Homo sapiens: one gene and its partner. The protein of the gene in region 1 purifies or fractionates together with the protein of each later gene. This does not show direct contact. Each region holds a gene or a part of one and is shown in the gene's direction. Other genes may lie near its edges.

Region 1 (3,600 bases):
GTACCCGACTGGCTGAGTCACACAGAAAATCATCTAACTGCAGTGTCTGCCTATGGAGTTGGAGGCATTGATCCACTCTGCACACACCAAGTGCCTCCTCTCCAGAGGAGGTCATGTCCATTGGGGGAAGGACGGAAGTAAACAAGGGATCACAAAGCAGTGATAAATGCTGTGATAAGAATACACATCTAGTGCTCGAGTTATCAAGCATTAGATGCTGTGGGAGTACAGAAGGGCAGTTGCCTAAGTCTTTAAGGATAGGCTTGTGGTCAGGACTGAAAAATGTTGGTTGCTAGAACCATCAAGTGACTGCAACATATCAGATGACTGTCTTCATCATACCGGTTAGCCTTTGAGTGCTTCACATGTCTTATATACATTACCTTGCTTCACAACTCTCCTGGAAGATAATGGTCATCCCCACTTAGAGATGAGGAAACACAAGGCCCAGAGAGGGATTACAAGCCAAGCCTCTTACTCCCATGCCCTGGCTCTTTCCAGAATTACACCAGCATTCCACCACAGCTGCCTGCACCCAGAGTGTTGGGTATGAATCGGGTACAACTGGTGAGATCCAACAGTGCCTCATCATTCGACTTGGGTGCACACGGGAGAAGGTGGCATTAAAATCCACAGGGAACTCAAAATATGGAGGCAGGTAGATGAAGATTCAAGAGTCAGGACTCCCTGTGAAGTGAGTGACACTTAAGAGGGGGAGTGGAGCCCAGATCTGTCACACATACGGCGTGGGGGACCCCACCTACCACTGGTCCTCAGCACCTGGAGACCCGAGCCTTCAGCAATCTGGGAAGCATGAAAGTGGGTTTCGGTGCACAGGGCCACGCCTCCGCCGCCAGCAGCCCAGCGGGAGCGTCTGACCAGTCTCGCCCTCCGAGAGGAGAGAGAGGCGGCCCAGGACGGTCTGCTTAGAGGCTCTCTCCCCTGCAGAGCTGGGCCCAGGCATAGGTCAGACGCCTCCAATACAGTCCCCAGGGCAGCGATTAAAGCGGAGCAGGAACTGCAGACCCGACCGGGCAGGACAGGTGCAGCTTCTCGGAGTTGGGGGCGGGAAGTCTCGGGCTGAGGCCCACGTGCTTCGCCTTCGCCCCGCCTCTACCCTCATTGGTTGAAGCCAGATTGAGAGGAGGTGCCAGAAAAAAAACTCCTCCCTCCAACCTCATTGGCCAGCTCAGTTCTGAGGCAGCTCTCTGGCCCCGTCTATGGGCTCGCACTACACTCCAATTGGGTGGTTGTTCTCCCAGACGGAAACTCCGCCCCACCTGTACCTTGGACCGCTCCGCCCTAGGGGCGGTTCCAGCGCGCTTCGCTAATCGGTTCTATGCTCCCATTGGTCTGCTTTAATGTGAAGGGCGGGTCCTAGCTGATTCGCTAGCCCCGCCTTGCGTTCCTATTGGCTGCTCCTGCTCTGCGGTTCCGATCCCGCCCAGCACCGTCCCCCACCCCCCGCCGCCCATTGGCTGCGAGAGGCCGGTGCGGGCCGCACTCGCAGGGCCCGTGGCGGTTCAGGCGCCAGAGCTGGCCGATCGGCGTTGGCCGCCGACATGACGCCCGAGGACCCAGAGGAAACCCAGCCGCTTCTGGGGCCTCCTGGCGGCAGGTGAGCTCCGGGGAACCCGGGCCCGGATGCGGCCTCGCCCTCCCGCCCCTCCGCGTCCGCTCCGCTCACCCTCGGCCCTGTCCCCCCAGCGCGCCCCGCGGCCGCCGCGTCTTCCTCGCCGCCTTCGCCGCTGCCCTGGGCCCACTCAGCTTCGGCTTCGCGCTCGGCTACAGCTCCCCGGCCATCCCTAGCCTGCAGCGCGCCGCGCCCCCGGCCCCGCGCCTGGACGACGCCGCCGCCTCCTGGTTCGGGGTGAGGCCCCGGGCTCGCTCCTCCCGCCCTGGGACCCCACGCCCTCCTCTCGGGACGGGCATCGGGACCCTCCGCCCCCCACCCTTCCCCTCGGGACAGGCATCGGGCCCCGCCGCCACCACCTTTCCCCACGAGACAGGCATTGGGCCTCTCTGCCCCCCATCCCTTCCCTCGGGACGGGCATCGAGCCCCTCAGCCCCCACCCCTCCCCTCGGGACGAGCACCGGGCCCCTCAGCCCCCTACCCCTCCCCTCGGGACGGGCGCGGGGCCCCGGCTCTTTTACCTCTGAGCCCGCGGGGAGTGGGTGGAGGGGGAGGATGGGCTGCGGCTTCGGCGCCCCCTCCTCAGCAGCCGCCCGCCTCCAGGCTGTCGTGACCCTGGGTGCCGCGGCGGGGGGAGTGCTGGGCGGCTGGCTGGTGGACCGCGCCGGGCGCAAGCTGAGCCTCTTGCTGTGCTCCGTGCCCTTCGTGGCCGGCTTTGCCGTCATCACCGCGGCCCAGGACGTGTGGATGCTGCTGGGGGGCCGCCTCCTCACCGGCCTGGCCTGCGGTGTTGCCTCCCTAGTGGCCCCGGTGAGTGTCCCGTCTCTCGAGTGTCCTGTCTCGCGGCCTGAGACCGAGGGGGAGTGGGACAAACCGCTCCCCAGGCCTGGGGGCGCGGCTCCCCCTGGCGGGACCTTCTGGGTGCCAGGCTTGAAGTCCCTGCGTTATCTCGCGGTCCCTCCCGTCGACCCTGGGAAGGATCCTACTGTTCTCTCCATTTTACACTGAGGTCATGACATGCAGTCTCGGAAAGGTGAAGTCCTTTGCCCAGGCGAGGTCCACAGCTAGTCAGAGGGGAAGCAGTTGCAGGAACCCAGGGTTGTCCCACTTAGCCGTGCCCCTCTTTTGCTCTGCAAACCTGCGGATGATCCACAGGAGCCCACTCCCTACATTTTGGTTTTCATCCCTGGCTTCGGGTCAATGACTGCAATTAGCAGGAAGTTCCTGTCCTGATTTCTCTTGGGGCAAAGGCTGCTGGCCTCTGTGTTCCCCTTCCCTTCTCACAGGCCAGCCCCTCTGGCTTCCCCATCTTCCCCCTTTCCCCCTCCTGACCCAGGCTGCCCACTTGGGAGCCCCGAACATCTGGGTCAAATCCTGGTTCTGCCACTAACCTGAGCAGAGTGCCTCCCTGGGCCTCAGTTTCCTTCTCTGGAAAACAGGGATTATGGCATTAGCCCCTGAGGTAGTGGTCAGGATTCAGTGGGACTTTGGATAGACAGCCCCTGGCATGGCTTGTAGAGGACTGGATCCTGACAGCTTGGTGACCCATGAACTGCCCCCAGCCATGGGCTTGGACAATATCTCCCCCAAGTGAGGTTGAAAGCAGCCACTCAGGCCCCTCCCTGGGTGCTCATTTCACCAACGTTTGCTAACCGGCAGCAGCAGCTGGACCAGAAGAGGGTGGGGAAGAAGCTGGGCCTTTTATGTCTTTGGTTTTTTTAACTGGGCAGAAACACACCTGTGTTAGGGGCCTAAGCTATGGAATAACCTTAGATGCATGGGTGAGGGCCTGGTGGCCTGTGGGCCCAGGAGGGAGCTAGTGGCAGCCACTGGTAGTGACCGAGGCAGAGAGTTCGTGCTTCTAGTCCAAGGCCACCACTCAAAGCGTGGGCCCTGGGCTAGGATCCTGGGTGGGCGTCACGTGGAGCTGGTTAACAAGGTGGAATCTTTCGCCTGTCCAGACCTAC
Region 2 (3,725 bases), on another chromosome or scaffold:
TAGCAAAATGCCTGGGACATAGTGAGACAATAAAGGTGGGCTGCTCTCTTTAAAGTCTTATTTTTTAAACTTTTTATTTTGAACTGCTTTCACAGAAAAGTTGAAAAAATAATTCAACTTTCATATATTCCTCACTCAACCTTGCATAACCACAGCTCAATGATCAGAACCAAGAAATTAACATTGGTGGCATGTTACTATGATTCATAACACAAGGAGATTAATGCAATGTAATAGTTCAAGAAATTAGGCCAGGCGCAGTGGCTCACGCCTGTAATCCCAGCACTTTGGGAGACTGAGGCGGGCGGATCACCTGAGGTCAAGAGTTCAAGACCAGCCTGACCAACATGGAGAAACCCCATCTCTACTAAAATTACAAAATTAGCTGGGCGTGGTGGTGCATGCCTATAATCCCAGCTACTCGGGATGCTGAGGCAGGAGAATTGCTTGAACCCAGGAGGCAGAGGTTGCAGTGAGCCGAGATCGCGCCATTGCACTCCAGCCTGGGCAACAAGAGTGAAACTCCGTCTCAAAAAAGAAGGAGAGAGGGAGGGAGGGAGGGAGGGAGAGAGAGAGAGAGAGAGAGAGAGAGAAAAGAGAAAGGAAAGAAAGAAAGAAAAAGAAATTAACATTGTCACAATGCCTAACAACAAAAGCGAAGGCCTTCTTTGAATTTCACCAGTTTTCCACCTGTCTCCTTGTATTGTTCTAGGGTCCCATTAAGGGTACCTGTGGCGTTGAGTTGTTCCTTCTTCATCACCTGCAGTCTGTCAGGGTTTCTCAGTCTTTCTTTGTTTTTTATGACCTTGATAACTAAAGACTGTTGATCATTATTTTGCTGACTGTCTTTCCATTTGCCTGGCATTTTCATATGGTTGGAGCGAGATTACACAAACCACAGAAGTGGTGTGCACTGTGTCTGGGGCTTGTGATGTCAGCGTGTCTTGTTGTAGAGGATGCTGAGCTTGGTGCCTTGGTTAAGGTGACTTCTGCTGGGGTCATCCTCTTGTATTTTATGTCTCCTCCTGTATTAGTCCCTTCTTGCATTGCCAGAAAGAAATGCCAGAAAGACTGGTGGTTTATAAGAAATGAGGTTTAATTGGCTGATGGTTCTGCTGTCCAGGAAGTATAGCAGGTTCTGCTTCTGCGGAGGCCTCAGGAAACTTACAATCCTGGTGGAAGGTGAAGGTCATCTTCTATGACCCAGAGCAGGAGGGGGAGAAAGAGGCGGGAGGTGCTACACACTTTTAAACAACCAGATCTCATGAGAACTCACTCACTGTACAGCACCAAGGGGAGATGGTGCTAGGCCATTCATGAGAACTCCCCGCACCGTGATCCAGTCACCTCCCACCGGGCCCATCTGGTAACACTGGAGATTAAAATTCGACATGAGATTTGGGCAGGGACACAGATCCACATCATGTCACCTCCTTTATCTTTCCTGCTGTAGTTAACAGGTAGTGTGGGGAGATGCTTTGAGCCTGTACAGAGCCCGTTGCTCCTTAAACTCTTCCTCACTGATTTCGCAACCATTGGTGTATCTTGTGTGCAGTGATGGCGCAGGTGCAGTTCTCTTGATGGTGACTTTCTGTTTCCTCTTCCTTACTGTCTTTATTATTTGGAACTCTCCCGCAAGACAGAACTGTCATTTCTCCTCCAATGAGATATTTATCTGATTGTTTAGCTCAATATGGACTCATGGATATGGATTTTATTCTGTGGGTTATAATCCCATACTATCACTATTTATTATATTGTTGTATCAGTCTGTTTTCACACTGCTCTAAAGGACTTCCCTGAGAGTGGGTAATTGATAAAGGAAAGACATTTAATGACTCACAGTTCCACATGGCTGGGGAAGCCTCAGGAAACTTACAATCATGATGGTAGGGAAAGCCGTCACCTTCTTCATAAGGCGGCAGGAGAGGGAAGAAGGAAGGAGGAACTTCCAAACACTTAGAAAAGCATCAGATCTTGTGAGAACTCACTATATGAGAACAGTATGGGAGAGACTGCCCCATGATCCAGTTACCTCCCTCCCTCTGCAGGTGAGGATTACAGGTCCCTCTCTTGACACATGGTGGTTACAAACAGAGCCAAACCGAATCAGTTGCTTAGGTTGTTCTCCTTTGGGCCATCAGGGTGCTCCTTTGAGAGTAGCCTCTTGTGTTCTTCCATCAAGCCCACTTTTTTTTTTTTTCATTTCCTTACTTCATGTTTCCACAAAATATTTGTTTTTGGCTCCCCACAGGCCCTGGATTCAGCCACTTCTTCAAGCAGCCCTGATTCCTTTTATTGGAGAAGTGTTTAGAAACCAAGACCTAGGCATTAAGTGTGTTCATTACCTCTTGGTTCTCATTGCTCCCCTTCAGTGTTCAGCAATAGCAAACATACGTGTGTATACCAACGTGTGTGCGCATGTCTATATTTCTGTGTATTTCTCTCTGTGTTTATCTGAAAAACCGTGATTGTATCCTGTACCTTGGGTTCTAGTCCAACGGTACAGAGTTCATTTTAGTTTTTTCACTTTCTTATTCTTAACTCCCTTCTCCAAGAGTAAGACATTGCACACCTGCTGTCTTATTTACTTACTACTTATGTGTTCAGTTCTAGTATATGCATGAAGTAGTTTCTGAGTTCCCAACCTATGAAACACATTTACTGGATTATAGCATTTATATGCAGTCAAGATGCAGTTTTCCAAGCTTCTTAGGTTATATCCGTGTTTTTCCCATCCCCTTCAGTGTGGTTATATTGTTCATTCGTAGTGCATGTGTTTGTTGGTGCACCAGAGCCACACAGTTTTAATTACGGGGTTTCTATAGTCTGTTTTAATATCTGGTGGAGCTAGTCACCCTTGTCTTCCTTTTTCAGTGTTTTCCTGGCAATTCTTGTGTGTTTCTTTTTCTATGTGGACACAAAGTCTTCCTTTAGTCTAAGTGGAGTGGGGTCTGGAATGAGGGTTCTGTCAGCATTGACACAGCAGCAGAGATGCAGAGATACCTGAATTTGTGGTTGTGTGTGGCAGGCAGGCACACCCTGCTCCTGAAACTCAAGGACTAGGCAGATCAGAAAAGGAAAAGCAATCTCTCTTAATAACTTATTTTCTTTGTGAGACCATCCCTTGACCTTAAGTTTTCCAGCAAACTCTTTTCTTTTCTTTTTTTTTTTTTTTTTTTTTGAGGCAGAGTCTCGCTCTGTCGCCCAGGCTCAAGTGCAGTGGCATGATCTCGGCTCACTGCAAGGTCTGCCTCCCGGGTTCATGCCATTCTCCTGCCTCAGCCTCCCGAGTAGCTGGGATTACAGGCACCTGCCACCACGCCTGGCTAATTTTTTTTGTGTGTGTGTATTTTTAATAGGGACGGGGTTTCACCATGTTAGCCAGGATGGTCTCGATCGCCTGACCTCGTGATCCGTCCGCCTCGGCCTCCCAAAGTGCTGGGGTTACAGGCGTGAGCCGTGGCACCCGGCTGCAAACTCTTTTCAAGGTTTGAATTCAGAAGGTAGCAAGGGAAGAGGGTAAACACTGCATCTGCCGCCTCAGGGGAGCATGAGTCTGCACCCAGGCTGGTATAAGGCAACAGCGTATCTTTAGGCTCCTACAGAAGGTACATTGTTTCTCCGCTGCATCCTCCGAGCGGCTGGCATGTTGCCTGCTCATGGTTCTCTGCCTGGCACTGGCCTCTGTGCTGGGTTCTGTTCTCTCAGGCCAGAGAGCCTGG

Evidence for each region. The genes of interacting proteins can lie anywhere in the genome.
Region 2: the proteins of SLC2A8 (region 1) and C2CD2 purify together in Homo sapiens (affinity purification with mass spectrometry; 2 studies listed by BioGRID and IntAct, with this or other methods). This does not show direct contact.

The regions. Positions count from the first base shown.
Region 1 is NC_000009.12:127,395,669-127,399,268, forward strand, and holds the start of SLC2A8 (solute carrier family 2, facilitated glucose transporter member 8), read left to right. Parts: upstream 1-1,500; 5' UTR 1,501-1,562; coding exon 1,563-1,618; intron 1,619-1,707; coding exon 1,708-1,870; coding exon of another isoform or gene 1,871-2,236; coding exon 2,237-2,443; intron 2,444-2,503; exon of another isoform or gene 2,504-2,645; coding exon of another isoform or gene 2,646-2,666; intron 2,667-3,600.
Region 2 is NC_000021.9:41,943,981-41,947,705, reverse strand, and holds part of C2CD2 (C2 domain-containing protein 2), read left to right. Parts: intron 1-3,725.